7 linked regions of the Homo sapiens genome follow. The protein of the gene in region 7 purifies or fractionates together with the protein of the main gene of each other region. This does not show direct contact. Each region holds a gene or a part of one and is shown on either strand. Other genes may lie near its edges.

The links.
Region 1: the proteins of EIPR1 (region 7) and FDXR purify together in Homo sapiens (affinity purification with mass spectrometry; 3 studies listed by BioGRID and IntAct, with this or other methods). This does not show direct contact.
Region 2: the proteins of EIPR1 (region 7) and CHID1 purify together in Homo sapiens (co-immunoprecipitation; one large-scale study listed by IntAct). This does not show direct contact.
Region 3: the proteins of EIPR1 (region 7) and YEATS2 purify together in Homo sapiens (affinity purification with mass spectrometry; 3 studies listed by BioGRID and IntAct, with this or other methods). This does not show direct contact.
Region 4: the proteins of EIPR1 (region 7) and MLF1 purify together in Homo sapiens (affinity purification with a luminescence readout; one large-scale study listed by IntAct). This does not show direct contact.
Region 5: the proteins of EIPR1 (region 7) and VPS50 purify together in Homo sapiens (affinity purification with mass spectrometry; 6 studies listed by BioGRID and IntAct, with this or other methods). This does not show direct contact.
Region 6: the proteins of EIPR1 (region 7) and CCT6B purify together in Homo sapiens (affinity purification with mass spectrometry; 3 studies listed by BioGRID and IntAct, with this or other methods). This does not show direct contact.

Annotation. Positions count from the first base shown.
Region 1 is NC_000017.11:74,869,752-74,874,700, reverse strand, and holds the start of FDXR (NADPH:adrenodoxin oxidoreductase, mitochondrial isoform 1 precursor), read left to right. Parts: upstream 1-1,706; 5' UTR 1,707-1,756; coding exon 1,757-1,835; exon of another isoform or gene 1,836-1,932; intron 1,933-2,384; coding exon of another isoform or gene 2,385-2,503; intron 2,504-2,567; coding exon 2,568-2,665; intron 2,666-4,949. UniProt on the Homo sapiens protein: Serves as the first electron transfer protein in all the mitochondrial P450 systems including cholesterol side chain cleavage in all steroidogenic tissues, steroid 11-beta hydroxylation in the adrenal cortex, 25-OH-vitamin D3-24 hydroxylation in the kidney, and sterol C-27 hydroxylation in the liver.
Region 2 is NC_000011.10:900,631-904,897, forward strand, and holds part of CHID1 (chitinase domain-containing protein 1 isoform a precursor), read right to left. Parts: intron 4,230-4,267; coding exon of another isoform or gene 4,187-4,229; coding exon 4,076-4,186; intron 3,149-4,075; coding exon of another isoform or gene 3,074-3,148; intron 2,482-3,073; coding exon 2,332-2,481; intron 1,701-2,331; coding exon 1,568-1,700; intron 351-1,567; coding exon 306-350; intron 1-305.
Region 3 is NC_000003.12:183,749,655-183,753,921, forward strand, and holds part of YEATS2 (YEATS domain-containing protein 2), read left to right. Parts: intron 1-2,418; coding exon 2,419-2,599; intron 2,600-4,267. UniProt on the Homo sapiens protein: Chromatin reader component of the ATAC complex, a complex with histone acetyltransferase activity on histones H3 and H4. YEATS2 specifically recognizes and binds histone H3 crotonylated at 'Lys-27' (H3K27cr).
Region 4 is NC_000003.12:158,594,987-158,599,253, forward strand, and holds part of MLF1 (myeloid leukemia factor 1), read left to right. Parts: intron 1-1,875; coding exon 1,876-1,959; intron 1,960-3,093; coding exon 3,094-3,222; intron 3,223-4,267. UniProt on the Homo sapiens protein: Involved in lineage commitment of primary hemopoietic progenitors by restricting erythroid formation and enhancing myeloid formation.
Region 5 is NC_000007.14:93,238,528-93,242,794, reverse strand, and holds part of VPS50 (syndetin), read right to left. Parts: intron 2,930-4,267; coding exon 2,861-2,929; exon of another isoform or gene 2,845-2,860; intron 1-2,844.
Region 6 is NC_000017.11:34,937,004-34,941,270, reverse strand, and holds part of CCT6B (T-complex protein 1 subunit zeta-2), read left to right. Parts: intron 1-649; coding exon 650-732; intron 733-1,557; coding exon 1,558-1,654; intron 1,655-1,940; coding exon 1,941-2,088; intron 2,089-4,267. UniProt on the Homo sapiens protein: Component of the chaperonin-containing T-complex (TRiC), a molecular chaperone complex that assists the folding of proteins upon ATP hydrolysis.
Region 7 is NC_000002.12:3,367,395-3,371,661, forward strand, and holds part of EIPR1 (EARP and GARP complex-interacting protein 1), read right to left. Parts: intron 1-4,267. UniProt on the Homo sapiens protein: Acts as a component of endosomal retrieval machinery that is involved in protein transport from early endosomes to either recycling endosomes or the trans-Golgi network.

The sequences.
Region 1 (4,949 bases), on a different chromosome or scaffold from region 7:
CTCCTGTAATCCTGGCACTTTGGAAGGCCGAGGTGGGAGGATCGCTTTGAGTTCAGGAGTTCGAGACCAGCCTGGGTGACATGGCAAAACCCCATCTCCACAAAAAATGCAAAAATGAACCAGGCGTGGTGGCAGGCACCTGTGGTCCCAGCTACTCCGGAGGCTGAGGCCTGAGGCTCGCTTGAGCCAAGCCAGGAAGCAGAGGTTGCAGTGAGCACCACTGCACTCCAGCCTGGGTGACAGAGCAGGACCCTGTCTCAAAAAACAAAATCAAAACCAAAAACAAAAACCCCAAAACCTCCAAAAAAACAAAAACAGTAAAAGCCATTCTTGTTGGTCATCCAAAACATGCTGGTGGACAGTATTTGGCCTGCAAGCTATAGTTTGCCTACTCCTGGTCTAGTGGGACAGGCATAAAACACAGTGACCTATTAGAAAGCAGACAGCATTTACTTACCAGTGGGAGGGAGGGGAAGTGACCAGTAAGGGCACAGAGGACTCCTGGGATACTGGCCATGTTTTATTTCTTGATCTGGGTGGTGGTTATATGGTTACACCTTGTGATATATTGTCAAGTTGTACACTCATGATTTGTGCACTTTTCTGTATGTTATTATTGAATTTAAAATCTCATTAAAAACGACAACCAGTGTAGTAAGTCATGATGGGATAAGGTCAGATGCTGTGGAATGAGAGGCCTTTAACTCCTTGGAACTTGGGAGGGGACGGGTCAGAGAAAAGGCTTCTCCAAGGAAGTAATATTTGACAAGAGGGCCCATGGGGAAAAGGAAGAGGGGTTAGGCTTATTGGGTCAGCTGTGACTACGGATCCTGTCCTTATTTTTAAAAACATTTTGATCATAGACTTTTTGCATTACTTTTGACCTTTTAAAACGTTGCAGTATTATATTTATCTTGATTACTGAGTGTTTTGGAGCCCCCTTAAATTCTGAACCCGAGGGGAGTACCTCAACTCTGGTCCCGGCTCGGCTGCACGGGGGTCGGACGCTCTGTCCTTAGTACCATACGTAAGCCACTGCCCCGCCCCGCTTTTCTTCACCTATGTAATGGGAAAGGAGGTGAGGTGGGACGAGCTTTCCAGGGTTTAATATTCTCCCTGGCCCGGCAAAGACGGGGATTTGAGGGGTTACATCGGCACAACACCCGGGGTCGAAGAAGGAGGCTGCTGGGCTCCGGGAAGGAGCTCCCTCGCCCCAGACTTCCGCACTCTGGTTATTTCCCAACGGCGGGAAGGCTCGCTTGGAGCCGGACTCGTGATTGGCTAGGACGAAGTCACGTGGGAGGATTCGCAATCAAATGGCAAGGGCGTCTGCGTCATCAGTGAGCGACGAGAGCCTCCCGAGAGGGGCGCGGCTAAGTAAAATAAGCTCCTTTCTTAGTGGCTGTTTCCTTGGGGAGGGACTGAAACAGCGATGGGGATTCGCTCTCTTCCAACCCTAGGCTTCCGGGATTTGGAGGGAAGGTGAGGCCTGGGGAGAAATGTATTAAATCGCGTATACCCCGGATGCTCCGAGGGGCGGGGCTTCGACGGTGGGGCGTAGTTAAGGGCGGGTCTCTCTTTTGGGGGCGGGATTCTCTCGGGAGTCGGGGTGGAGCCGCAAGGCTCCGCTTTCCCGGAGCGCAGGGGGCGGGGTTTGGGGCGGGGCCTCGCTTGTGGGCGGGCCCGGGCAGGAGCGGGCTTGCCCTGCGGAGCAGTAGCTAGGAACAGATCCACTTGCAGGTTGCTGCTCCCAGCCATGGCTTCGCGCTGCTGGCGCTGGTGGGGCTGGTCGGCGTGGCCTCGGACCCGGCTGCCTCCCGCCGGGAGCACCCCGAGTAGGAGCAGGGCGCCTTTGGGGCTGGATGGGAGCGCGGGGAGGCCTGCGAGCGCTGAGTAGGGGTCGGAGCAGAGCTGGGGCAGGGCTGGAGAAGGGTGAGACTGAAGGGGTGTCTTCCTGCTGGCGAGATCCCGGTGGTGTACGGGGGTGGGCGGAGATCTGTGCGTGAGATGTGAGGCTTCTAGGGTTAGAGACGGAGGTCAACAAAGGTGAAAAGGAGAGACTTTGAGATCTACAGGTGTGAGACGGGGTGAATGGAGGATGATACGGAGGTCTGTGGGGCGAGAGGAAAGTCTGAGTCGAAACAGGGATCTGTAGGAATAAGACGGGTCTATATGGGCAATATAGCGTTTTGTGGAGAGAGAGAGGGGTTAGAGGAGGGACACCGTGGGGAGACCCACGGGGGCGAGATTGGGATGATATGGAGGCCGTTGGAAGGATGTGGGATTCTAGCCGATTGGATAGGGAATGAAGTGTTGTTGGGCAGGCCATTGGCAGTGGTGTAGTAGGTTCATGGGTGAGATGTGGGCTCTGGATGAACCCACAGCCTTTGGGGGTTCAGATGAAGTAAGAGACCCTGCAAATGCCAAAGCCTTGAGGAACAAGAGAAGGAGGATGCAGGTGAGGGTGAAGCTTGGGAAGTTCCAGCTTCTGTTGGATATTCAGGTTGGTTTGGGACTGGGGAGAGAAGTTAATTTTGACCTTTTCCCTCTCCTCTGCCTGGCCCCAGGCTTCTGCCACCATTTCTCCACACAGGAGAAGACCCCCCAGATCTGTGTGGTGGGCAGTGGCCCAGCTGGCTTCTACACGGCCCAACACCTGCTAAAGGTAAGCCACTTACTCATAGTCCATCATTCACCTGCTGCTCCAGTCCTAAGGGCAAGCCTCACCCGCTTTGGGTTTTAAGAGCACTCCTGGTTGCCTTATGGGGAAGGGGCTCCCAGCCATCTGGCCTGGACACTTCCCACTTGCTTCCTCACCTACACCTGAGGCTCCCCTCCCCTCCCGTCCTCAGTGTGACAGGGGTGTAAAACGCACATTGGTGGTGAGTGGTCAGTGGCAGGTGGTCAGCTTTGCCTCCCTGGCCAAGCACTCCAGGGGGCTTATGTAGACCTGCAAAATGACTTTGTCCTCCTTCATCTTCCCTCCTCTCTCGTCTATCTTCACTCTATCCCAAACATCCTACATCTCGAGGCTACCCACCTCCTCCGCTTTCTGTAACTTTACCTGCCTTGCCATGCCCTCCTCACCCATAGCTCCAGTCCTCCGTGCCATTCTGTTCTTTCAGCCTGCCCTCTGCCCCTCCCCCTTCCCCTGTGAAGGCCAGGATCTCAAGGCTTTCAGTGTCTGCCTCGGCAGGAAGGGCCCCAAGCCAAGGCTACAGGTTCTACTTGAGACTCCACATCAGACTTTGGGACAGAGTAGAGAGGGGATACCCAGGTTAACTGAGACGTGAGACAGTTGCCTAGCTTTGGAGAGGCTTGGAGTGTCCGTGGAGAGACAAGAGAAAGGATGAATATCTTAATTATACACACACACACAGATGCTTGAAATGTAGGGTGACCAACTGGCCTGGACTGCCCAGGACAAGGGGCTTCAGCGCTAAGCTGGAAGTTCTTGGGAAACTGGGATGAGTTGATCACTCTGCTGAAAAGTGACCCGTGCATGCTTCCCAGGCAACACGGGTGAAAGAGCTAATTACAATAATGTGGGCAGCGTGAGCCGAGGCAGGTGGGGTCAATCAGAAACTGTTTCCTGGGCCGGAAGCCCAGGTGGCTCATGTCTGTAATCCCAGCACTTTGGGAGGCCAAGGCAGGTGGATCACTTGAAGTCAGGAGTTTGAGACCAGCCTGGCCAACGTGGTGAAACCCCATCTCTACTAAAAATAGAAAAATCAGCCACGTGTGGTGGCACAGGTCTGTAGTCCCAGGTACTTGGGAGGCTGAGTCGGGAGGATCGCTTGAACCCAGGAGGTGGAGGTAGCACTGAGCCAAGATCAAATCACTGTACTCCAGCCTGGGCGACAGAGTGAGACCCTGTCTCAAAAAAAAAAAAAAAAAAAAAAAGAGAGACAGTGCATTTGAGCTGCCTTGAAGCAGACCAAGGGCTTTGGTGAGGGCCTCCCACATGTGGGGAGTCATCCTGGAATGCAAGGCCTTGGGCACGCTGCCATGTGGGAGGGAGGACAGCCTGGGCTCTGGGATGGAGATCAGGGAGCACATGGGGGCTGGAGAGGCCCTGAAGGGCTTTGTATAAGGGACAGTTTTTTTTTAGCTGATCCTGACATTTTGGAAGGGAGGAGAGTAAGCTTTCCAGGCAGTGTTCTTTTTTTTTTTTTTTTTTTTTTGAGATGGAGTCTGGCTCTGTCGCCCAGGCTGGAGTGCAGTGGCACAGTCTCAGCTCACTTCAACCTCCATCTCCCAAGTTCAAGCGATTCTCCTGCCTCAGCCTCCTGAGTAACTGGGATTACAGGCGCACTCCACCACATGCAGCTAATTTTTGTATTTTTGGTTGAGACAGGGTTTCACCATGTTGATCAGGCTGGTTTTGAACTCCTGACCTCAAGTGATCTGCCCACCTCGGCCTCCCAAAGTCCTGGGATTACAGGCGTGAGCCCCCGCGCCCGGCCAGGCAGTGTTCTTAGCACGACTGTATTCAGCTGGCAGACACGTGCACATGCTTTCCTTGTGGAATGGGATGGGGAGGGGCTCAGGCCAGGTACAATCCTTGTTCTGATCCTTGGGCTGATCTTTGCCCACAGGGAGCTCCAAGCTACTGGCTGTGCTCCTAAGACAGGACCACATGCAGCACGTTTGGGACAGTGGCCCTTAGCTTGAGTCAGGCACTGAGCACAGCATCTCGTAGCATCCTCATGACAACCTGCAAAGCAGGTGTCGTGCCTCTTGCTTCACAGGTAAGGATGCTAGGGCCAAGTGAGGTTGTCCAAGCTTCCACCGTGGAGCAGGGATGGCACTGGGATCTGAGCGAAGGCAGCTCCATGTGAGGCCATCCATGTTAATCCATTCAGTAATCATTTACTGGACGTAACATGTTCTGGGCGCAGGCTTTACTGGGAACATGGGGGTGAACAGGACAGACGTGGTCCCTGTGC
Region 2 (4,267 bases), on a different chromosome or scaffold from region 7:
TGATAGGACTCATCATGTGAATGAAGGAAGAAATGGGATTGAGAACAATTAGGGCAATGCCACTGGCCAAGGAGGTGCTGGCTTTGGAGGGCCACAGCCTGTGTGGGGAGGAGAGCTCAGGACTCCAGCCAGACTAAGGGCTGTGAATGCCAGGCCAGGGCCAGCCTCATCTCTGAGCGGTCAAAGTAACCTGTGCCGCAGCAGCACAGCCGGGTGATCAGGAACACGTGGAGACCCCAGTGCCCACCTGTCCACCCCCGCAGTTTGAGCCATCAGGGCCTCCACTCCTGGCCTGCCGCACTTACCTATGTGCAGGCCCTTGGCATGCTTCCTGACAGCTCGCATCCACCCTGTGGGACATGGAGGGGACAGTCAACACAGGCACGTGCGCCCAACTGGAAGACCCAGCCTACCTGAGGAGGAAAACGTGGCAGCCGCACAATACGCAATGGGAAGGGCAGGGGCGGGCAGGCAGGTGTGAGAACCCACCCCTCCCTGGCCCAGGGCTGGCTCTCCACACCCTCTTCCTGACCCCAACTCTCCACCCTTCTGGCCAAGGCCCCCTTCCTGACCCTGCAGAGCAGCTCTGAGCTTACCCTCCCTGAGCTGGGACAGCTCAGAGCCTGTGGCCGGCCAGGGGAACAGGCAGCTGCATCCTAGGGCCTGGGGACGGTCAGGGTTTCTCCGAGCTGAGGGATGGCCAGACCCGCCAGGCCCTGACACTGGCTGACATTCCATCACCTCCCCACGGTTCTCTCAGTGTCAGGGAAAACCACTCCTGCTCTCTGAACTCCAAAACTGCCTAACACTTCCCCTGCCATTTCTCTCTGTCCGAGCCCAAACGCAAGGCGCAGCCACGTAAACTCGGGCAGACGTCATCAGGTCAGGATGTGCCATCAGGAGGCAGCCTCCGCCTGAACCCCACCTTCCTCCCTGGCATTGAATGAAAATCGCTGAGAGAGGGACAGAGGAGGAGAAGCCAATGGCCCGTGCCGTTTGCTGCCCAGAGGCTGCCTGAGTCATTGTAGAGCCTGTCCTGCACACGCCTGTGTGCAGCCCGGAAGTGCAAGGGAAGGCCACCCTCACAGCCACCTGGACCACACGCAGACCTGGGCGGAACACTCTGAGGCACCAACTTGGCCTTGCAGAGGGTCCCACCGTGGCGACCACCTCAGAAACCCCCTCTACCAGGCCTGCCCTGCTCCACACTCACCTTCCCACTTAGCACACCAGCCCACACCATGGGCCTGCTCTGCCGGCTGGGCCCCAAGGGGTGAGGGCGTGGTTCTCACAGTCACCACACTCAACACTCACACCCACTGTCTCACACTTAGACATGTCCACACCGACAGTCACATTCAACACACTCACAATCTCTTCTCTCCCACATCATCAGTCTCACACTTACACACTCACATTCACACTTAAATCACGCAGAGACACACACACACTCCCATACAGAGACACCCACAGAGACATACCTACTCACACACACACACCCCTGCTCTCGCACTCACACTCTTTTCAGCCTGTGGGGCAAGCACAGTCAAGCAGGAAGGATGAGAACCTTGGTCCACGTCGTGGAGGCCCGTGACCTCAAACATCTCACGGCCACGTCTCTTCAGCTGCAGCCAGACGGGTGAGATCTGTGTGAACTTGCTCCCAAAGACCTTGGTGACATCGTAGCCATGGCTGTTCCACTGGCAAAAGATGGAGACATCAGACGGAGGACAGGTGAGTGAGCACCTGTCTCACCATGGTGCTGTCATTCTGGCGCCTCTGGACGTGCCCAGGGCTGGCCAGCGTAGACAGATACCAGCCCGGACTGACATCAGCTCCTGGCCTGGGGTATCCTTCTCCTACTCTGGACTGCCACTCACAGCCTGGGACCCAGGCCACGACATCCCTTTCACCAAAAGTGACTGGTGCTTGTCTTAAGCCCCACCTGGAGCTAGTGCACACCACTGCTGCAGGCTGGCAGCTGGGAACAGCAAGAGAAGAGGAGGCTGGGTGTGAGAACCCACCCCTCCCTGGCCCAGGGTTGGCTCTGCACATCCACTTCCTGACCCCAGACGACCTGCGAGCCCACCTCTGGATTCAGGGGGAACCCACAGAGATCAGCACAGCAAGCCCCTGGAGAGACCCCCAGGGTCTTACACTCTGACATCTCCAGAATGGCATCTCTCCCACCGTAGCCTCACAGCAGCAGCAGCTCCGGGAGATCAGAACATAGACCCCCATCACTGACTGGCCAGAAGAGGCCATCACGGGGCCAGGGCAGCCCACCTGAGCCTCAGGACCTCCCTCTGCACTGTGAGGGCCCCAACTTACTGGAGTGACATAGCCCAGTACATCCCCAGCAAAGTGTCTGTCCCGGGCCTTTGCCGAGCAGTAGCTGCGATGCTCAAGAACCACACTCTCAGCTTTGAGGTCCGTCACCACCAAACCCCGGTCTTGCACCGGCTTATCTGAAAACTGACTCTGAAATAAAAGGAGTGAGAGAAAAGCCTCAGTCATCTGTCCACAGTGTAGAGCACAGAGCCCCACCCAGCAAGTCCCTTCCATTCAGCCAGCAGCCGAGTCTCTGGATCCACACAGTGCTGCTGACCCGGAGACCCTGTATGTTGAGGATCGAGGCCACAGCAGGCAATTCAATTCAGAAGCACTCTGGCCGTCAACAGACACTGGCCGACGGTACAGGGCCTTTCCCACCCTTGCTCCGGGCTGGAAGGCAGGCAGGCAGACAGACAGTTATGGTGGCTCCCTCCTTGCATGTGAGGGTGGACGGTCTGCACCAGCTCTGGCCACTCGATACCCATCCGGGCACTCCAGGGCCATACGCTTTGCTGGACAAGAACATGCCAGGTGCGCTGGGTGCATTGGCTCACGCCTGTAATCCCAGAACTTTGGGAGGCCGAGGCAGGTGGATCACCTGAGATCAGGAGTTGGAGACCAGCCTGGTCAACATGGTGAAACCCCATCTCTACTAAATATGCAAAAATTAGCCAGGCATGGTGGCGGGCACCTGTAGTCCCAGCTACTCGGGAGGCTGAAGCAGGAGAATCGCTTGAACCTGGGTGGCAGAGGTTGCGGTGAGCCAAGATCGCGCCATTGCGCTCCAGCCTGGGCAACAAGAGCAAAACTTCACCTCAAAAAAAAAAAGAAAAGAACATGCCAGGCACACGCCACCATGCTGGCCAACCACTGCCTGCCACCGCCCCCGCCAACGTGACCCTGCTGGCCAACCACTGCCTGCCACCGCCCCCGCCAATACGACCCTACTGGCCAACCACTGCCTGCCACCACCCCCACCAATGCAACCCTGCTGGTCAACCACTGCCTGCCACCCCCCTGGCCAATGCGAGTCTTTTCCTGCCATGTCACACCTGCCCCTACTCCACCTCTGCTCCTGGAAACCTTCCATCCAGTTATCAACTTGTCTCTTCTGTCCACACTCTGTGGCCCGGCTCAGCCTCCCCTTGACCTCGCCCCAAGCGGCCCCGTGAGAGAGAGATGTCCACTGCATGGTTTATTTGCCCCCATACAGCACAGAGAAAGCATCTGCCAGTCCAGGACTAGGTCACAGTTACAGTCCTGTGGCAGGGTCTGGCCAGCGGCATGGGGACTGCTGGGGCTGAGAGGTGGTTCTATGAGTTTACACCCTTGAAGGTGCAATCCCCAGGGCCATCCCAGGGGAACGTCCCAAAAAGCATGAGGCAAACACAGCTCAAGGCCATGATAAAGACAGCAAGATGAAGATGCAGGTGATATAAACGAGAGGTAGAGCATGGAAACTGGCAACTGGCACATAAAACAAGCCCCACGTGGGGTGAGTGGGGAGGCACCCTGCTTGCCCTCAAAACCTGGCTCCAGAGGCTGCTCACTCAGAGGTGCTGACTGGCCAGAGCCCCAGAGCCACACAGGCCACCCACCGGCTGCGGGCTCATCAGGTGCCTTTGTGAGGAGCCAAGCCCCTCGAGCCTCCTGGCTCACAGGCCCCAGTGGACAGAAAGAAGAGGATGATGGATCAGCCCTCAGCCAGTACAGTCACCTCAAGTCCCCAGGCCACCCTTACCTTCTCCAGCAGCGTCTTTGAGGCGGCTTTTTTGGCATCTGACTTTGACAGGGTAGTGTGAACAGGGCTGCAGGCCAGGGCAAGCCAGAGGAGGTTGAAGAGTGTCCGCATGGTAGGTGTGTCACAGTAGGGTCCAACCTCGGGGTCCAGAGGGCTGCAGGGAAAGCAGAGCACATTCAAACAACCGGCAGA
Region 3 (4,267 bases), on a different chromosome or scaffold from region 7:
TTTGAGAAAGAGTCTTGCTCTCTCTCACCCAGCCTGGAGTGCAATCACGGCTCACTGCAGCTTTGACCTCCTGGGCTCAAGTAATCTGTCCTTAGCCTGTCAGGTAGCTGGGACTGTGGGCGTGTGCCACCATGACCAGCTAATTTATTTACTTACTCGTTTATTTATTTATTTATTTTTTGAGATGGAGTCTCGCTCTGTTGCCCAGGTTGGAGTGCAGTGGCTCGATCTCGGCTCACTGCAAGCTCCACCTCCCGGGTTCACGCCATTCTCCTGCCTCAGCCTCCTGAGTAGCTGGGACTACAGGCACCTGCCACCACGCCCGGCTAATTTTTTTTTTTTTGTATTTTTAGTAGAGACGGGGTTTCACTGTGTTAGCCAGGATGGTCTTGATCTCCTGACCTCATGATCTGCCTGCCTCGGCCTCCCAAAGTGCTGGGATTATAGGCATGAGCCACCGCGCCCGGCCTACTTGTTTATTTTTTGTAGAGACAGGGTCTCACTATGTTGTCCAGGCTTGTCTTCAACTCCTGGGCTCAAGCTGTCCGCCTGCCTTGGCCCCCCAAAGTGTTGGGATTATAGGCATGAGCCATTGTGCCCCGCCCCTCTTCCTGTTTTAGGCTGAATAATACTGCATTGTATGTATATACCACATTTTGTTTATCCGTTCACCTGCTGATGGACACTTGCGTTGCTTCCAGCTTTTGGCTGTTGTTAATAGTGCTGCTATGAACGTAGGTGTACAGGTATCTATTCAAATCCTTGCTTTCAGTTCTTTTGGGTATATACCCAGAAATGGAATTGGCTGGATCCTATGGTAATTCTATTTTTAGAGGAACCACTGCTATATTTTTTCGTGGTAGCCGCACCATTTTACATTCCCACCAACAGTGCACACGTATTCCAGTTTCTCCACGTCTTCACCAGCATTTGTTAATTTTTTTTGTATTTTAATTTATAGTAGTTATTCTGTTGTTTGTGATGTGATATCTTGTGGTTTTGATCTGTGTTTCTCTAATCATTAGTGATGTTGAGGATCCCTTCATGTGTTTGGTGACCATGTGTTTATCTTCTTTGGAGAAATGTCTATTCAGAGACATTCAGAAAATGTCTTTGCCCATTTTTAAATTAGGTGGTTTGGTTTTTGTTGTTGCTAAGTGACAGGAGTTATTCATATATTCTGGATAGTAACCCCTTACCAGATAGATGATTTGCAAATATTTACTTCCATTCCGTGTTATATTTTTGCCTTTTCACTCTGTTGATTGTGTCCTTTGATGCACAGAAGTTTTTAAGTTTGATGTCCCGTTTGTCTATTTTTTATTTTGTTGCCTGTGCTTTTGGTGTCGTGTCCAAGAAACCATTACCAAATTCAGTGTCATGAAGCTTTTCCCTTACATTTTCTTCTAGGAGTTTTATTGTTTTAGCTTTTATGTTTCGTTCTTTGATCCTGAGTTAATTTTGGTATATAGTGTAAGGTAAGGGTCCGATTGCATTCTTTGGCATATGGATATCCAGTTTCCCTGGCACCATTTGCTGAAAATACTGTCTTTTCCCCCACTGAATGGTCTTGGGACCCTTGTCAAAGATCATTTGACCATATATGTGAGGATTTATTCTGTTCCATTGGTCTGTATGTCTGTCTTTATGCCAGCAGCATACTGTTGATTACTATGGCTTTGTAATAAATTTTGAAATCAGGAGTCTGAGACCTCCAACTTTGTTCTTCACCTTCTCTCCCTTTTTTTGTATTCATCATATAATAATCAGCAATAGCCATTTAATCAGAGTTCACTAATTAAATCTTACTCTGTCTAGAGAAATCTGCTGTATTATATCAGAAGGTACTTATTGAGCGCTGGTCCAGGTGCTGGGAATACAGAAATGAACACGGTAGCTTCTTCCTTCAGAGTCAAATTCTTAGTGGCATTGAAAATGGGGAGGGTAGACAGTAAACACAAAAGCAAATAAAATTACTTCAGTTACAAATAAGTGCTGTGAAGATAAGAGTAGCTGGGGGATAAGGAAGTAGCTTATTCTTGGGTGGTTAGGCATGGTCTCTCTGAGAAGGTGCTACTTCATTGAGACCTGCTGGTGAGAAAGGCAGCCATGCAAAGATTTGGAGGAATAGCGTTGTAAGGAGTAGCAACAGCAAAATCAAGAGGTCCCAATTTTGTGAATAATTTCACTGAGATTTGTATGTTAAACCAGATTAGATTTTCACTGAGGTATGTGTCTGTTAAGCCAGATTAGATTACCTTCTAGAATAAATCCTTTAGTTCTTCAGATTGAAATTGCCTTTGAAGTGTGATTAGAAGTTATCTCTCACATCCCGGAGATTACATTCTTGGACGGGACTTGAGCTTTCTGTGACATTGATGATGGACTCATGAGCCTGATTGTTGCCCAATTGTCTAGGTAGTGGATGTTGAACTCCATCGCCATTCTCTCGGAGAAGACTGTATCTATCCTCAGTCCTCGGAGTCTGACATCTCTGATGCCCCTCCATCTTTGCCTTTGACCATTCCAGCCCCAGTGAAAGCTTCTTCACCAATAAAGCAGTCACATGAGCCAGTACCCGATACCTCTGTGGAGAAAGGTAATACAGCAGTTTTCCTTGCATAGCGTTGTTCTGAGGCATTCCTTTCCCATTTGCTGCTTTCAGAGACCTATAGTATATGGAAAATAACTTTGCTATAAGTGGACATGCTGCCTCTACTACACAGTTCTGTTATGAAAGCCAAATTTCCACTCTTGTCAAAAATATTTTTCCGGCCGGGAGCTGTGGTTCACACCTGTAATCCCAGCACTTTGGGAGGCCAAGGCGGGTGGATCATGAGGTCAGGAGATTAAGACCATCCTGACTAACACGGTGAAACCCCGTCTCTACTAAAAATACAAAAATTTAGCTGGGTGTGATGGTGGGTGCCTGTAGTCCCAGCTACTCGGGAGGCTGAGGCAGGAGAATGGCTCGAACCCGGGAGGTGGAGCTTGCAGTGAGCTGAGATGGTACCACTGCACTCCAGCCTGGACAACAGAGCGAGACTCCATCTCAAAAAAAAAAAAAAAAATTTCCATGAAGTTTTACTGACATATTATAAAATGTAAAAATAGCTAAAAAACATAAGATTTTTAAATTTATTTTTATTTTATTTTATTTTGAGATGGAGTCTTGCTCTGTTGCCCAGGCTGGAGTGCAGTGGCATGATCTCGCCTCACTGCAACCTCCACCTCCTGGGTTCAAGCAATTCTCCTGCCTCAGCCTCCCTGTTAGCTAGGATTACAGGCGTCCACCACCGCTCTCGGCTAATTTTTGTATTTTTAGTAGAGATGGGTTTTCACCATGTTGGCCAGGCTGGTCTCGAACTCATGACCTCAGGTGATCCACCCACCTTGGCCTCCCAAAGTGCTGGGATTACAGGCATGACCCACCACGCCTGGCCTAAAACAGATTTTTATCACTTGATAATTCCTTATAATGTATTACAGGAAGACTTTATGGTTCAGCTTCTGATTGTGCGAGCAAGAAACTTGGATATTAAATACCTGGTTTTACTTAAGAAAAGATTCATCACCAACAATGTATTTTGACCATGCCATTTTTAAATTTAACAAATATATGTGTATAAATACATATTTTAATGTTCCCATATATAAGCATAAAAGATATAAAATTGATCTTAAATGTTTTATTTCTAAGCCTATATTTTAATGTGGTTAGTATTATAGTTCTTTTATAAAATCTCAACTTTATTCCTCTTTAGATTTCAATTGCATCTTTTTTATGGGCATTTAATAAGATACAAGAGGGGCCGGGCACGGTGGCTCATGCCTGTAATTCCCAGCCTTTTGGGAGGCTGAAACCATCGGATCACCTGAGGTCAGGAGTTCAAGACCAGCCTGGCCAACATGGCAAAACCCCGTCTCTACTAAAAATACAAAAATTAGCCAGGGATGGTGGTGCATACCTGTAATCCCAGCTATTCCGGAGGCTGAGGCACAAGAATTGCTTGAACCCGGGAGGTGGAGGTAGCAGTGAGCTGAGATCACACCACTGCACTCTAGCCTGGGTGACAAGTGAAATAATGTCTCAAAAATAAGTAAATAAATAAGATAGGAGGATATCATTAGATTTAGTGAATGCTTTCTAAGATTTTTTCTTCTCTAAACAGTTTTTCAGTTTATATATTAAAAAATGGAGGAACATAAGAACTTTTGTTCTTTTTATGTTATACATGGTTTATAGTTAATAATGTTTTCAAGTTTT
Region 4 (4,267 bases), on a different chromosome or scaffold from region 7:
GCAAATATTTATTAAACCCTCTTAAGTGCCAGGAATTATTATATATGTATTGGGGATATTGTAGTAAATAGACAAAATCGCCCTGCCCTCAGAGATTATTTTTATAAAGTGGGAAGATAGACAATAAACAACAAAATAATTTCAGATAGTCACAGTACCCTGAAGATGAAACAGGGTAATGATACAGAGATGGGGGGAAGTGAAGGAGGGATTAGACAGGTGACCAGCGGTGGCCTTTCTCAGGTGGTGATACTTGAATCATGAGAAGGAACTAACTAGGTTTAAAGTCAGGAGGAAACATTTAAGGAAGAAAGAGGAGAATGTGTACAAAATTTTTGAAGGCCTTAAGGGCCCACTGAAGTCTCAACTACATTTTGTACCCCAACTTTTTGTCACTCCAGTGTGTTGGGTCACCCCAGAGCAAGTGCAGATACATCTTTTGATGGTTGATTTGAACATGAATTGAGAAGAGGGCAGAAATACCCAAATGTCTAATCTTTTCCTCTCTCTCTTTTTATCCTTCTTTGGGTTAACCTTTCCATATCTCATGAAATAAGAACGGATTCTCAATCTAGTGTTAAAGCAAATATTCAGAATATTCCCTGAATTGTGTTTGCCTCTCTGAAATGCAAAATTAATTCTACTTCAGTCCTTTTTTACCCAAATATATATTAGTATTTCCTAAATGTGCCTTTGTTGTTCCCTACAATATTAAGTGCAGGTTCTAAGGAGGAATTTGGTTTTCCCACCTATTTTACATTATTATATCTGTAAAAATCCAATAGCAATAGAACACAGAGACACAAATAGAACTTAGGAGGATTCAGAGCTCCGCTTGGTTGAACAGAGAAGTTCATTAAACCAAGCAACTCATTCTGTTTTATAACAGATGATTTACTGGCTAACACATTGGAATGTGTGCCTGACTTTTATTTTCTGGTGAGTCTTCCAGTGATAAAACCTAAAATCAGTGGTAGATTTTAAAACCTAAAATCAGTGGTAGATTTTCCTAGAGCAAAGTTTCTCAACCTCAGCCCTACTGTCATTTTGGGCAGGGTAATTCTTTTTGTTCTGGGAGACTGTCCTATCCATTGTAGGATGTTAAGCTGCATCCCTGACCTCCACCCACTAGATGCTAGTTATATGCTCTCTTCATCTGTGACAGCCAAAAATGAGTATAGTTATTGCCAGTGTCCACTGAGAGTCAAAATCAATCTTGGTTGAGAAACTACTGTTTAGAGGAATTCTTAACTGTTTTTCTGAAGACACATACCTCATGCTTCAAGGGTATAGCCTACTGACCCTTCAGTAGGCAGCAAATTGAAGGCCTATTAGTAAAGTGAATTGATTTCTGTCACCCAGATCCTACTATGATGAGAGGAAGGCTGGCTACTTACTCGAGGGACAACTTCTGTCAGCCATGTGGTACTGCTGGAGGTGACACTGGCATCTTATACGCAAATTTAGTTATTTGCATGGTGGAGTATTGAGAGATAAGGAAAATTATGAAAACTATCGTATGCTAGAGAATGTATCACTTAGTATTTAACATACACCAAATTATGTTTTGAAAAAGTGAGTAATGAGTGATTAGGTGTGTATGTGTTTTTATATATACATGCACATATATGTATTTATAATGTTACAGTTCCCTAATTATTTGTATGTTGGCTCTTTGGGATTTTGTGTATGCTTCAATTTTCTCCTTAACTAATCACTGTCATTATATCCTCTAAGTTATCTTTGTCTGGTTGATTACTGCATGAGATTTCACTAAATGAATTGGAAAAAAATGTTTTAGCTGTTTTGGAAGATGTATTTGCATCTTTTGTGTTGTTACCTACAGTTAATAACATACTTCCTGATATTCTGTAGCATACAGATGTCAGCTCTTTCCAGACAATGGACCAAATGGTGTCAAATATGAGAAACTATATGCAGAAATTAGAAAGAAACTTCGTAAGTACTAAAAACAAAGCATTGAGAACATTGTGTATACTTTGATATATTCTATTTCATAGTGGCTTTCAAACACTTTTTTAACCATAGTGGTTAAAAAAGATACCTTACATGATTAACCCAATAAGCAATATTTGTATACTTTATAAATATATTTGAAGCAAAAGTTTCATGAAAAAATGACTATACTATTTACAGTATATACAGTTATTTTCTAGTCTATTTCATGTATTAAAAATCCTGGTTACAACCCACTAAATTGAGTTCATAACCTCCAAGTTTGAAAAATAATGTTAACTTTGAAAATTTTTTAAAAATTGGAAAAAAAATAACCTCAAAAACATTGATTCTATTGAAAGTCACTATTGTAAATGAACATTTTATATGAATTTGCATAATTTTATTATTAATAACCTGTCTACTTAAAAGGATTTGTAGCATCTGAAGAGTTTCAGGGTTTTATAAACGACTCTGAAAACAGAAATTTTAGGAATAATGTTTAGGTATAGTTCCCTAATAGTCCAAATAAACTAGTACTATAATAATACTCTCTATATTAACATCAAAACCAGTCACTTGATTTGATCTGAAGAAGACCCATAACATTCTAGTCATCCAGTTTGAATTCTATGGATCATTTCAGAATGCCCAAATAATCTAGGGCATTATTGGTTTTAGTAATGTAGCAATCTGGTACCTACAGGAGGAGGTACGAAACTTGATGTATAACTAATTGATTGGCTTAATGTTGGCAAGATTACACACAAGGGTCAACCACTGACTATAGAAGTATCACAGGTTTGGGGGCATAGCATCTTTATTGAAATCTAAGCCACGAGCACCCAAAGACTTAAGGATCTCTGAGTGAGTCACTTATTAGTCTTTGTAACGAGAGTGGGATAATTGTACCTAAAATGGACGACCGTTAGGACCCTCTAGGGGTGACTTTTTTTGGGCGGAGGTAATTTTTCAAGTCACTTCTCACTTGAGAACCTGGGTGTGCCTTTGACTACACCATATTGGTAGTTTAGTATCCTTAGTAGAACTTACAGCTAGTGTTGTTACTTATTTGAACTCTCTGGCAATAATTATTTATATTTGACTCGACTGAATTTACAATTTGTTTACCTGTAGGGTCAACTTTCAGTGGATCCAAATGGACATTCATTTTGTTCTTCCTCAGTTATGACTTATTCCAAAATAGGAGATGAACCGCCAAAGGTTTTTCAGGCCTCAACTCAAACTCGTCGAGCTCCAGGAGGAGTAAGTTTTCTATAAGCATTCCTAAAGTTTTATAAAGTTAGGGGATGATAGACTGTCTAGATCAAATTTTAACTATTAAAATTTAATCTGGTACAAGATGGTGGGGGGACAGGAGGGAGGTGTGGGGGTTGGGGGTAAGGTAGTCCTCACTGTGGAAACCATTAAAGCTCAACTGTATTTACTTAGTTTGTGGCATTTTTTTTGTAGCCCCCCCACCCCCCCGTGAGGGTGCCTTTTTTCATGTAAATATCTATGGATGTTTATTACCTTTACATGTTGACAAGGTAAACAAAACACGAAAAGAAGCCTTTGTTTCATGAAATTAATGTCTATTTTTAAGTTTACATTTGAAGTGAATTAATTTTTTAACTCATGAAATATTTCAAGTGTACAGAAAGGATATAGAGAATAACATAATAAGTGCCCATATTCCTGCCACCCAGTTTAGTCATATCATAACATTTTTCTCTATTTGCTTCAAGTTGTCTCTTGCTTTGTTTTCTTTTTAAGCGAAAATGTACAGAGGCAGTTAAACCTTCTAATACATTCCTCTGAGGTCTATTTTCCCTTTCTCCCCTTCTCAGAGATTACCATTTTCCTGTATCTGGAGTTTATCATTTTCACGCATGTTTTTACAATTTTATTACTTCACGTTTCTGTCATTAAAAAAATGGATTATTTTCCAGATTTCCCAACATTACATAAAGGGTATCATATTGCATATGTCCTCTGCAACTTGTCTTTGCTGAGTAATATGCTTCTGAGATTTATTCAGCTTGATACATGTGGCCCTGGTTTCTTTAACTTCTATGTAGTATCCAAAATATGAATATATTATGATTAATACGCTTCTGAGATTTATTCAAGTTGATACATGTGGCCCTGGTTTCTTTAACTTCTATGTAATATCCAAAATATGAATGTACCATGATTTTTAAATCATTTTCTGTCAATAGATATGTAGGTGAGTCTAATCTTTCACTAATTCATCTTTATACATGGCTCCTTATACAGAGTCTAGGAGTGGTATTGCTGAGTTGTAGGG
Region 5 (4,267 bases), on a different chromosome or scaffold from region 7:
TTTCTTTCTTGAAAATGCCACTGAAATCTCTCAATTCCCTGTCCTAACTTAGAAAGATACTATGAAAAGAAAGGAGCCGATTCCTGAAGACCAGGCATATGTTTTTTAAAAGTTGTACCTACAGTTATAAGTGAGGCAGAGCTATTAAATGAAGTTAATGTTTATAAGTTTTCCATATAAGAATTAACAGTGACTACTTAAATAGCACAAATTGTTAAGTTCAAAGAGTACTCCCCTAAGCAAAACTAATGGGTACCTTGCTTTTTAAACCTAGAATATACTGTGAGAATTTTCTATGTTATATATATATATATATCACCAAGTTAAAAACCCAAGCTTCCAAATAATTTCTAGAGTATGATACCATTTTTAAAAGGTTGTATAACTTATAATACCATTATAAAAAGCTATACTGACTACTTCCTGTAAAATAACTGCCAATTTCAAGGAGTTTATCTCATCGCCCTGTTTCCTTCACAGTATTATAATCTGTAATCGCCTTACCCCTGCTTGAATGTAAGCTCGCTGTCTGACAGCAGGGAAGTTTTGACTTTTGGAGAGAACTTTTGTCTTTTCACTGCTATACTGCCAATCCCTAGAAAGTATCTCTAGCACATAGAAACTCAATAAATTTGTGGAATATGCATAGGGAAAAGACCAGTAGGCAATGTTAACCTTGACAGTGTTGGTGATTTTTGTGATTTTTTTTTTAAGATACCTTTTTCCGTTTACCATGTTTTCTGTTTAGAGCATACATTAATTTTATATTTAAAGCAAAAGTTATTTCAAAATAATCATTTGAATTAACATTTTCCATTTTGTTAAAATGCTTTTAATCTTAATTTTAAAAGATCTTAAAGATCTTCTTCAATTACATCAAATTTCAGGTCATCAAGAACTAGCAACAACATTAATTTCAAAGCAATTATACAAAAATAAATCATTAAAATATATGTGTTATGATCTAAGTATAAAGTCTTATCTAAATTGTGAAAAAATACTGAACATTAAAGCTACATCAAGCTATGCTGTGTAGGGAATTTCTGAATATGAGTCTTCTTAACTCCTGATCTCAGTACTGACTTCAAACCTCATCCAAAGACTCAGTTTACTGACTGGAGCTTTGCCACTCTCTGGACCCAGCAACTCTCATGTTCTCAGAACCACCCAGAAAGAAGGCAGAAGCTCTGCTCACCCTCCATCATTTGTTATGCTATAGGAGAACACAGAAAAAACAAACAGGCAGATGAAGCTTGTAGGGATTTCTTAGTGTAAGGTTAAATGTAAGCTTATAGCATCAATACATTTTTTACTATTAACTGTTTTATTATTTAACTAACTTAGCTTCTTAGTATGTGCTAAAGAGACCAGTGCTTTAGGCTTACTCTTCACCTGAACCATTTATATTTGCTGACCTTGTGATCCCAGACTGGCCACTCCACCCAAGGCCAGTTATCCTAAAAGTACAGACAGCACTGGTCACTGATGGAGCTAGGGGTGTACATTTAATAAGAAGACTTTGTAATGAGATCACCATATTCACTACCAACCAGTACTGGGAAAACATCATGGCTCATGGTGGAAACACAACAGAAAGTTCTTGTTAAGACTGTAATGTATTTTTTTAAAGAGGCTCACTCATCAATTTGACATTGATTCTGCAATATGTAATACAATCTAATTCAAGGTATGTTCATAATGCATGATAATCTTTTTCTTAACTCAAAGAAATAAAGAGAATTATTGTCAATTAATTAGGATTTATGGCTATCTCTTGTTTCCCAACCTTTTCATAGTCATTAATTTTTAATAACATTACATAAAACTATACGGAATGCTTTTCTTAAGTTTTTGTCTGAACCATTTCATGCAAAAGGGTTGGTTATAATTTTATTGCATTTGGAGAATATGTTTCAGCCTAACCCAAAATAAAAACAATGCAGTAAATACAAAATTCACTTTAGCAGGTAAGGCACCTGAAAGAGATGAGAAATCATCCTCCTAAGGAGCTGACACCGAGGTGTAAGGAGAGGCCTTAAACTGCTGATCAAGAGAAGCACACCCTGTGTATTCAAATGCCTGATGCAGAAAACAAACAGTATTTTCACGTATCACTCTCAAATTAAAAAATACAAAAACAGACATTCAGAAGTGCCAGCTTAATCTGTGATGGAGCAGCTATTCACATGGGCAGCTCCAAGCAGCAACACTCCAGAAAAACAGCAGGGATTTAACAATACTTAATAATTCCAAGGGGAATCTAGCTAGCTTTCAAATAACCTATATAAAATTTGTAAACTGAGAAATTCACGTGAATATCAGAGGATTAAAATCTAAAATACCTACAATCTAGGAGATAAGTTATACAATTCAGTATAAATACTATGGTTTAGATGCTTTTTCAAAAACCTCTGCTCCACAACAAAAATATAATCATGATTTTTGGCACAGAATGTTAGGAGTATAAAAAGTCAGTAGTCAACTATTTCACTTTATTTCTACAAATTACAGCAGATAAATCAATGAGAGAGAGAGAGAGAGAGAGTGTGTGTGTGTGTGTGTGTGTGTGTGTGTGTGCATACACATATATACAACTGCTTTCAGGCTAAGAATTTAATATAATAAATTCCAAATTTATCAAGTTTGCATTTTTTGCTTTGCTATAATGCATCATACATACTGCATCCCAACGTGTAATGAAACAAGCCCTACACCTACTATACAATAAAAATTTACCTAGCTTATCTTAACAACCATCTGCCTGTGGGAAAGAAAAGCTTCTGTGAATCAATTACTATCCAGAGGCAATCATATTTTCTTAAGGAAGTAAAAAGTCACGCTCACACGTGTAGCTCAATACCTTTCCAGGGACCCGGAGACTCTCTATGGCACCAAGATCACTGAGGCTTTCTTGAGGGCTTTTCAGACCCTTAAAAAAATAATAAGATGAGGAAAATTTTAATCATGCTGAAGAATTATAAAAGGATAGAATACACCTACTGAAACAGAAATGACCACTTTAAAAATAGAAATTTTCCTGCTTCAAAATATGGAAGATATATTCTAAAAGCAATCATCATTTAATACATATAGTACTATTATTAAATCAGAGAAGGGTGTACTTTTGGTATTTTAAAATAAAAGAGTATTATACGGCAACTTCACAACTAATGGTAGAAGTCCAACCCATCTATGATTTGAAAACAGCCAAAAGTAAAGAAACTTACATAACAAAAAGCATTCTATAAAAGCCACTTGTATATACAATAATAATTACTAAATCCATCAGGAAAAAAGTCCAAGCAATAGTATTATGATTCACAGATACAATATACTAACCAACTAAGCTAACATATAAGTAATCCCTTCATTTTACTTGATTATTTCCCACCAATGTATCCAATTCATGCTGCATAAATTAAGATTGAAGTCTCATATCTCACTGTCTTTTACCTGTCCTTTAGTTCTTTGGTGCCCTGTACTTTCTATATTCACATCAACTGAGGGATTCTGAAAGCTTTATTTGTACCAGGGGAAATTATTAAAATAGAAAGAAATCAGCAATTTACATTTTCTTTAAAATCCTCTTTTTAAAAATAGGCTATTCGAAGCAGACATTTAATGTCCCTGCAATATTAGTTTTTAGGCAAAATTAGCTATTATTAATTTGAGGAGAGATTTATGATACAAATTGTCCTTTAGGTGCCCTATATTGGGGATCCTTAGTAACCAAAATATATGGTATGCTTATGTTGACTATTTGAGACTCAGAGCAGAACTTGCTTATCTTTAAACTACAGAGATGTGTATTTTCTCTTCCCTGTTGTAAAATACCACTAGTCATATCTAAAATTTTTTATTACAAAGTGCTCTGCCTCAACCGCAAGTTTTCCATTACCCCCAGAATATCTAACCTACCCACCCTTCTCTCCCCGTCTCCCTCTCTCAGGCACACTTACCACTCCAAGAAATGAGAAAGCAATACATCACTTTCAGAATTATCTCCTCTACAAAGTCTTCCTAAATCCCTATGCTCCAAAGAACACAGTATTTCTCAGTATAACCCTTGGATCATGTCCATCAACACCACCCAGGGAACTTGTTAAAAGTAAGATTCCTAGGCCCTAAAATAAACCTAATGAATAGGTTTTTCTAGATTTGGGCCAGGAATGTGCATTTTCCCAAAACAATACCTCAGTAAGACATCTTCCAAGACAATACCTCAGCCAAAGTAGTAAAGTTTTAAATTTTAAATATATCTTTCTCT
Region 6 (4,267 bases), on a different chromosome or scaffold from region 7:
TGATTTTTATAAAATCATACATGGATAAATAATCCATTCAGTGTGCAAGTTACAGCAATGTGTTTTAATGTGAGATAGTATGAAAAGTTCATTGCTATGGTTCCATAGTGAAACTAACCTTTGAGAAACTATTACTTACTGAGTTTTGGTATAGTATCAAAGAAGAATTTCCATAATTATCTGAAAAGCCTATTAAAATATTACTCCCTTTACAATATTTATCTGTGTGGGGCCAGATTTTCTTCATAAACTTGAACCAAAATAACATATCATTCCAAATTGAATACTGAATGAGATATGAGAATCCATTTGTTTTCTATGAAGATAAACATTGAAGAGATTTGCAAAAATGTAAAGTAATGCCACTGCTAGCTCACTATATATATTTTTGTTTTCAAAAGTGTAGTAAATTTTCATTTAAAATGTTATGTGTATTAACATAAAATGGGCTTATTATTTAAATGAATTAATAAATATTTTAAAAATTTCTCAGTTTTTATAATACAAATATTATAGATAGAGCTTACATAAACAAAAGCTTTTTGGGTGCTTAATCATTTTTAAGAGAGTAAAGTGGTGCTGAGACCAAAAGGTTTGAGAAATACTGGTTTAAAACATGTTTATAATTTTTATGTTAATTTGATTATAGGGAATTGATCCATTTTCCTTAGATTCTCTTGCAAAACATGGAATAGTAGCTCTTCGCAGAGCAAAAAGAAGAAATATGGAAAGGTAAGCTTGCAGATAATTATATATCCTAAGTTTTTAACAGAGTAAATGGAAACTATCCCATGTGTTTTCCTTTTAGCTTATGTGTAAATGTTGTTGAACAAAACAGTGGCATAAAAAAATCCAAATTTTGTTTTTAGTTTCAGTAAATAATTGAACTGTCAAAAAGCAAGGTTGTTAACCTACTGCAGAACTTTGTTGAAGTATAAGGAAAGTTTTTATCTTTTTAAAACAGATTTTAAAAACAAAACAATACAACATAATACAGCATGATCTCACTTTTATATATGGAATCTAAAAAAGTTGAACTCATAGAAGTAGATAGTAGAATGGCGGTTACCAGGGGCTGGGGCAGTGGGAGGGGAGGGGCACTGGGAATATGTGGGTCAAAGGATACAAAATTTCAGTTAGTTAGGAGGAATAAATTCAAGAGATCTATTGTCCAACATGGCAACTGTAGTTAATAACAATATATTGTTCTTTTTAAAAATCTTTTGCAAACCCACCCGAGAATGCACAATGTGTTGGATTCTTGAAAAATGCTGAGAGTAGATTTTAAGTGTTCTTATCACACAAATGGCTAAATCAAGCCTCACATAGGCAATATGTATGTTAATTAGCTCAATTTAGCCATTCCACAGTGTATACATATTTAAAAACATCATCATGTTGTACTCGATAAATATAGACAATTTTATTAGACAATTAAAAACCCAAAACAATACAATACAGTAACAATACAGTCTTCTGCATTAGATATCTTCTCTCTGAGAAATTAGTATTAATGTTCTCCATAATCAAGCTATGGTGACATATATGTAATTTCAGACTCTCTCTTGCTTGTGGTGGAATGGCCGTGAATTCTTTTGAAGATCTCACTGTAGATTGCTTGGGACATGCTGGTCTTGTGTATGAGTATACATTAGTGAGTATTTCTATGAACAGTGGTTATAAAGTGAATACTAAGCCCCCTTTTTTAAAGAAAAATACTACTTGACCTTTTATTTCATGTTTTGTGTTTTGAGATCTAATTCACAGAACAGATTTTACAGTTTATTTACCTAAATGTTTGTTAAGAGTTCAGATATAACTTAACTCCCTTAGTTATGCTTGATAAGAAAAATTCAAATGAAGATTGTATTCTAGTATAAATTGTTGATTTTATAATGACATCAAATATTAAAGTTATATATTTTTGTGCCACCCTTTAGGGTGAAGAAAAGTTCACTTTTATTGAGGAGTGTGTTAACCCTTGCTCTGTTACCTTGTTGGTTAAAGGACCAAATAAGCATACTCTCACACAAGTCAAGGATGCCATAAGAGATGGACTTCGTGCTATCAAAAATGCCATTGAAGATGGTAAGCTCTTTCTTGTGATTGATATGAACCTCATGTATATGTGTGTATATATGTATATATATATACACACACACCTATGTATGTATATATGTATATTTTTAGACAGAGTCTTCCTCTGTTGCCCAGGCTTTAGTGCAGTGGTGCGATCTCAGCCCACTGCAACCTCTGCCTCCCAGGTTCAAGTGATTCTTCTGCCTCAGCCTCCCAAGTAGCTGGGATTACAGGCACACACCACCACACTTGGCTAATTTTTTGTATTTTTAGTAGAGATGGGGTTTCGCCATGTTGGCCAGGCTGGTCTCGAACTCCTGGGCTCAAGCGATCTGCCCTTGTTGGCCTCCCAAAGAGCTGAAATTACACGTGTGAGCCACCATGCCTGGCCTTTAAGTCTTTTTAAATTTTATTTTTATTATTAATCTATTTAATCTATTTATTTCTTTTGAGACCAGGTTTTGAAACTGGCTAATTTTTGTATTTTTGGTAGAGATGAGGTTTCACCATGTTGCCAAGGTTGGTCCTGAACTCCTGGGCTCAAGGGATCCACTTGTCTTGGCCTCCCAAAGTGCTAGGATTACTGGCATGAGCCACTGCGCCTGGCTGCAAACCTCACATATATATATTTTTCTCAAGACAGGGTCTTGCTCTGTCACCCAGGCTAGAGTGCAGTGGCACAATCATGGCTCACTGCAGCCTCAAACCCCTGTGCTCAAGTGATCCTCCCACCTCAGCTGGACGATAGGTGCATGCCACCACACCTGGCTAATTTTTAATTTTTTTTTGTAGAGATGAGTTCTGTCTATGTTGCCCAGGCTGGTCTTGAACTCCTGGCCTCAAGCAGTTTTCCCCCTTCAGCCTCCCAGAGTGCTGGGATTTGTAGGCACGAGCCACCACATTCAGCCCATGTTGAGCATCTTTTAATGTGTTTATTTGCCCTTTGTATATCTGGTGAATTTTCTGTTTAAATCTTTTGCCCTTTTAAATAATTGGATTGTTGGCCATGCACAGTGGCTCTCACCTGTAATTCCAGCACTTTGGGAGGCCAAGATGGGAGGATTGCTTGAGCCCAGGAGTTGGAAACCAGCCTGGGCAACATAGCAAGACCATGCCTCTACACACACACACACAAATAGCCAGGCGTGGTGGCCTGTACCTGTAGTTCCAGCTACTTAGGAGGCTGAGGCAGGAATATCACTTGAGTCCCAAGAGTCTGAGGTTACAGTGAGCTATGATCACACCACTGCACTCCAGCCTGGGCGTCAGAGTGAGACCCTGTTTCCAGAAAAAAAAAAAAGAGAAGAAAAGAAAAGAAAAAAATTTGTGTTAGTATACTATTGTTGAGTTTGAGAGTTCTTTGTATATAATTTGGGTACAAGTGCTTTTTCAGATATATAATTGGCAAATTTTTCTCCTCTGTGGCTTATTTTATTATTAACAGTGCCTTTCAAAGAGAAGTTCTTAATTTTGATGAAGTCTAATTTATTATTTTTATTCTGTCATGGATTATGCTTTTGGTGTGGTATCTGAAAAATCTTTACCTAACCTAGGGTCATAAAGATTTTCCTCTAAAAGTGTTACAGTCTTATGTTTTACATTTAGGTCTGTGATTCATTTTAAGTTAAATTTTGTATATGGTGCAAGTATGGATACAAGTTCATTTTTTTCATATAAAGGTATCAGATTGTTTTAGTCTTATTTGCTGAAAAGACTTTACTTTCACCACCGAATTGCCTTTTCTCGTGTATAAAAAATCAGTTTTTCATATTTGTGTGGTTCTATTTCTGTGCTCTTTTTTCTGTCCTACTGATGCATTTGTCTATTTTAATGTTAATATCATACTGTCCTGACGACTGTAGCTTTATAATAAATCTTGAAATCAGTATTGTTAACTCTCATTTTTTTTTTAAGTTATTTTGGTCATTCTAAGTCTTTGGCATTTCCATATGACTTCCATATGAATTTTAGAATCAGCTTGTCAATTTCTACCAAAAAGACTGCTGCTGGGATTTTGATCAGAACTTTTTTTTTTAGAAAGGATCTTACTCTGTCACTCAGGCTGGAGTGCAGTGGTGTGATCATGGCTCACTGCAGACTTGACCTGCTGAGCTCAAGTGACTCTCCCACCTTAGCTTCCCAAGTAGCTGGAACCACAAGCATGCACTACCATGCCTGGTTAATTTTT
Region 7 (4,267 bases):
TAACAAGTCAACACTGTAACAGCACCACACCTTAGGAGCAGGCAACACCAATATTACCTTCAGTTGTTTCCAACACAGAAACAGAAGGAAAATTCCCAAGTGCTTTTTATGCAGCCAGCATAGCAGTGAAACAAAACTCAACGAAGAAAATACACAGATATTAACGTGAAAATTTTCAGTAAATGACTCGTAAACCGAATCCAGCAGAGGACTATTCCACAATCAAGTGGAATTCTTTCTAAGGATGCAAACGCTGGGCCAATATTTAAAAAGCTATTAATGTAACTGACCAAAGAGATCAAAAGAGAAAAATCCTAAAACCAAATTATCAATTCCATGGATATAAAAAGGCATTTGAAAACTTAATCTCTCGGCTGGGTGCGGGGGCTCACACCTGTAATCCCAGCACTTTGGGAGGCCAAGGCAGACGGATCACAAGGTCAGGAGATCGAGACCATCCTGGCTAACACCCTGAAACCCCCTCTCTAAAAATACAAAAAATTAGCCAGGCGCGGTGGCAGGCGCCTGTAGACCCAGCTACTCAGGAGGCTGAGGCAGGAGAATGGCGTGAACCCGGGAGGCGGAGCTTGCAGTGAGTTGAGATCGCGCCACTGCACTCCAGCCCGGGTGACAGAGCGACTCTGTCTCAAAAAAAGAAAAAAGAAAAGAAAATTTAATCTCCATCTTCCATTTCAAAAGTCTTTCCTCACTTGGCAACAGGCAGACCCTGAAGCGCTGGCCTGGTCCATCTGTCCCTCAGACTGATGGCACAAAAAGCCAAAAGCCCACAGTCTCTTTGCCCCTCTGACCTGACTGCACTGATCTCAGGACTCCAGGAGAACCTCCCAGAACAGAAAGGAGGCACGCATATCCTTGTGTGGCTTACAACCTGCCCTGCTTGCTTCCTGGTTTTGGTGGTAAACCGAAGGGAAAGCAACTTGAAACAAGCCCAAGTCATCATTGTCACCCACCTTCCCACCCCGACCGTCCTTTCTGGTCTGGCCCAGCTCACTTGGCAGCAGTGGGCTCAAATAGGAGTTGGCAGATGTAGCCCTCACTCTGCCCACACCTGCAGGCCCTGCTTGCCGCTGGTCCATCTTAGTCACATGCCTGCCCCCAGACCTACACATGGGCAGAGCCACCACTGCCTAGAGGTTCACTGTTCCCATCACAAGGCAAGTTTGCCACATGGAGATTTGACCCACACAACAAAGAAGATCTATTAATGTCAAAAGTTCAAAGAAACATGATTGCAGGAGAGAAGTCATACTGTTTGTATGCACTTTGAGATAGTCACAAAGAACTACTGTTGTGTTAACTGACAAGTATTCATTAAACTCATATTGAGAAAATGGATTTCTACTGAGCAGTAAACTAAAAGTGTGCAAAAGCATTTCAAATATCATTTGAAATTTCATGCATTTCAAATATAATTATAAAAAAATCCAGAATCATTACCATGAATTTGCTCAGCATTTTGCGATCTTAACGACCCTCCGTGTTGGTCTTTTATTTGCAGTTGCAGTACTGCCCTTTATCTTTCAAGTGTCATTACCTTCACTCAGCGGTCAACGATCAGATCTCTATCCTTTCATGTAAAGTGTTCTCCATGGGATTTGAATGTCACTGACAAACAAACAAAAAAAAACACTATCCTTTTCAGTTTTCTTGTTTACTGCAATGATGGTTCTTCAAACTTAAGAAAGTCTTGGTCCATGATACTATCCGATAAAATCCAAGTAGCAAAAGTCAGCTACTTCTTTTAAGATAAAGAAGAAAATCCAATAATATATTTGACTACCTTAGAGAATCAATTTCATTCATTTTTCAAACCTCAGAAAATAATATTTCAGGGAGGAGCCAAGATGGCCGACTAGGAACAGCTCCGGTCTAGAGCTCCCAGCGTGAGCAACGCAGAAGACGGGTGATTTCTGCATTTCCATATGAGGTACCGGGTTCATCTCACTAGGGAGTGCCAGACAGTGGGCGCAGGTCAGTGGGTGCAGCGAACCGTGCGCAAGCCGAAGCAGGGCGAGGCATTGCCTCACTCGGGAAGTGCAAGGGGTCAGGGAGTTCCCTTTCCTGGTCAAGGAAAGGGGTGACAGACAACACCTGGAAAATTGAGCCACTCCCACCCAAATACTGCGCTTTTCCGACGGGCTTAGGAAACAGCGCACCAGGAGATTATATCCCACACCTGGCTCGGAGGGTCCTATGCCCACGGAGTCTCGCTGATTGCTAGCACAGCAGTCTGAGATCAAACTGCAAGGTGGCAGCGAGGCTGGGGGAGGGGCGCCCGCCATTGCCCAGGATTGCTTAGGTAAACAAAGCAGCCGGGAAGCTCGAACTGGGTGGAGCGCACCACAGCTCAAGGAGGCCTGCCTGCCTCTGTAGGCTCCACCTCTGGGGGCAGGGCACAGACAAACAAAAAGACAGCAGTAACCTCTGCAGACTTAAATGTCCCTGTCTGACAGCTTTGAAGAGAGCAGTGGTTCTCCCAGCACGCAGCTGGAGATCTGAGAACGGGCAGACTGCCTCCTCAAGTGGGTCCTTGACCCCTGACCCCCGAGCAGCCTAACTGGGAGGCACCCCCCCCGTAGGGGCAGACTGACACCTCACACGGCCGGGTACTCCTCTGAGACAAAACTTCCAGAGGAACGATCATACAGCAACATTCGCGGATCACGAAAATCCGCGGTTCTGCAGACACCGCTGCTGATACCCAGGCAAACAGGGTCTGGAGTGGACCTCTAGCAAACTCCAACAGACCTGCAGCTGAGGGTCCTGTCTGTTAGAAGGAAAACTAACAAACAGAAAGGACATCCAACCAAAAACCCATCTGTACATCATCATCATCAAAGACCAAAAGTAGATAAAACCACAAAGATGGGGAAAAAACAGAGCAGAAAAACTGGAAACTCTAAAAAGCAGAGCGCTTCTCCTCCTCCAAAGGAACGCAGTCCCTCACCAGCAACGGAACAAAGCTGGACGGAGAATGACTTTGACGAGTTGAGAGAAGAAGGCTTCAGACGATCAAACTACTCCGAGCTACAGGAGGAAATTCAAACCAAAGGCAAAGAAGTTGAAAACTTTGAAAAAAATTTAGACGAATGTATAACTAGAATAACCAATACAGAGAAGTGCTTAAAGGAGCTGATGGAGCTGAAAGCCAAGGCTCGAGAACTATGTGAAGAATGCAGAAGCCTCAGGAGCCGATGCGATCAACTGGAAGAAAGGGTATCAGTGATGGAAGATGAAATGAATGAAATGAAGCGAGAAGGGAAGTTTAGAGAAAAAAGAATAAAAAGAAATGAACAAAGCCTCCAAGAAATATGGGACTATGTGAAAAGACCAAATCTGCACCTGATTGGTGTACCTGAAAGTGATGGGGAGAATGGAACCAAGTTGGAAAACACTCTGCAGGATATTATCCAGGAGAACTTCCCCAATCTAGCAAGGCAAGCCAACATTCAGATTCAGGAAATACAGAGAATGCCACAAAGATACTCCTCGAGAAGAGCAACTCCAAGACACATAATTGTCAGATTCACCAAAGTTGAAATGAAGGAAAAAATGTTAAGCGCAGCCAGAGAGAAAGGTCGGGTTACCCACAAAGGGAAGCCCATCAGACTAACAGCGGATCTCTCGGCAGAAACTCTACAAGCCAGGAGAGAGTAGGGGCCAATATTCAACATTCTTAAAGAAAATAATTTTCAACCCAGAATTTCATATCCAGCCAAATTAAGCTTCATAAGTGAAGGAGAAATAAAATACTTTACAGACAAGCAAATGCTGAGAGGTTTTGCCACCACCAGGCCTGCCCTAAAAGAGCTCCTGAAGGAAGCACTAAACATGGAAAGGCATAACCGTACCAGCCGCTGCAAACTCATGCCAAAATGTAAAGACCATCGACATTAGGAAGAAACTGCATCAACTAACAAGCAAAATAACCAGCTAACAGCATGACAGGATCAAATTCACACATAATATTAACCTTAAATGTAAATGCACTAAATGCTCCAATTAAAAGACACAGACTGGCAAATTGGATAAAGAGTCAAGACCCATCAGTGTGCTGTATTCAGGAAGCCCATCTCACGTGCAGAGACACACATAGGCTCAAAATAAAAGGATGGAGGAAGATCTACCAAGCAAATGGAAAACAAAAAAAGGCAGGGGTTGCAATCCTAGTCTCTGATAAAACACACTTTAAACCAACAAAGATCAAAAGAGACAAAGAAGCCCATTACTTAAGGGTAAAGGGATC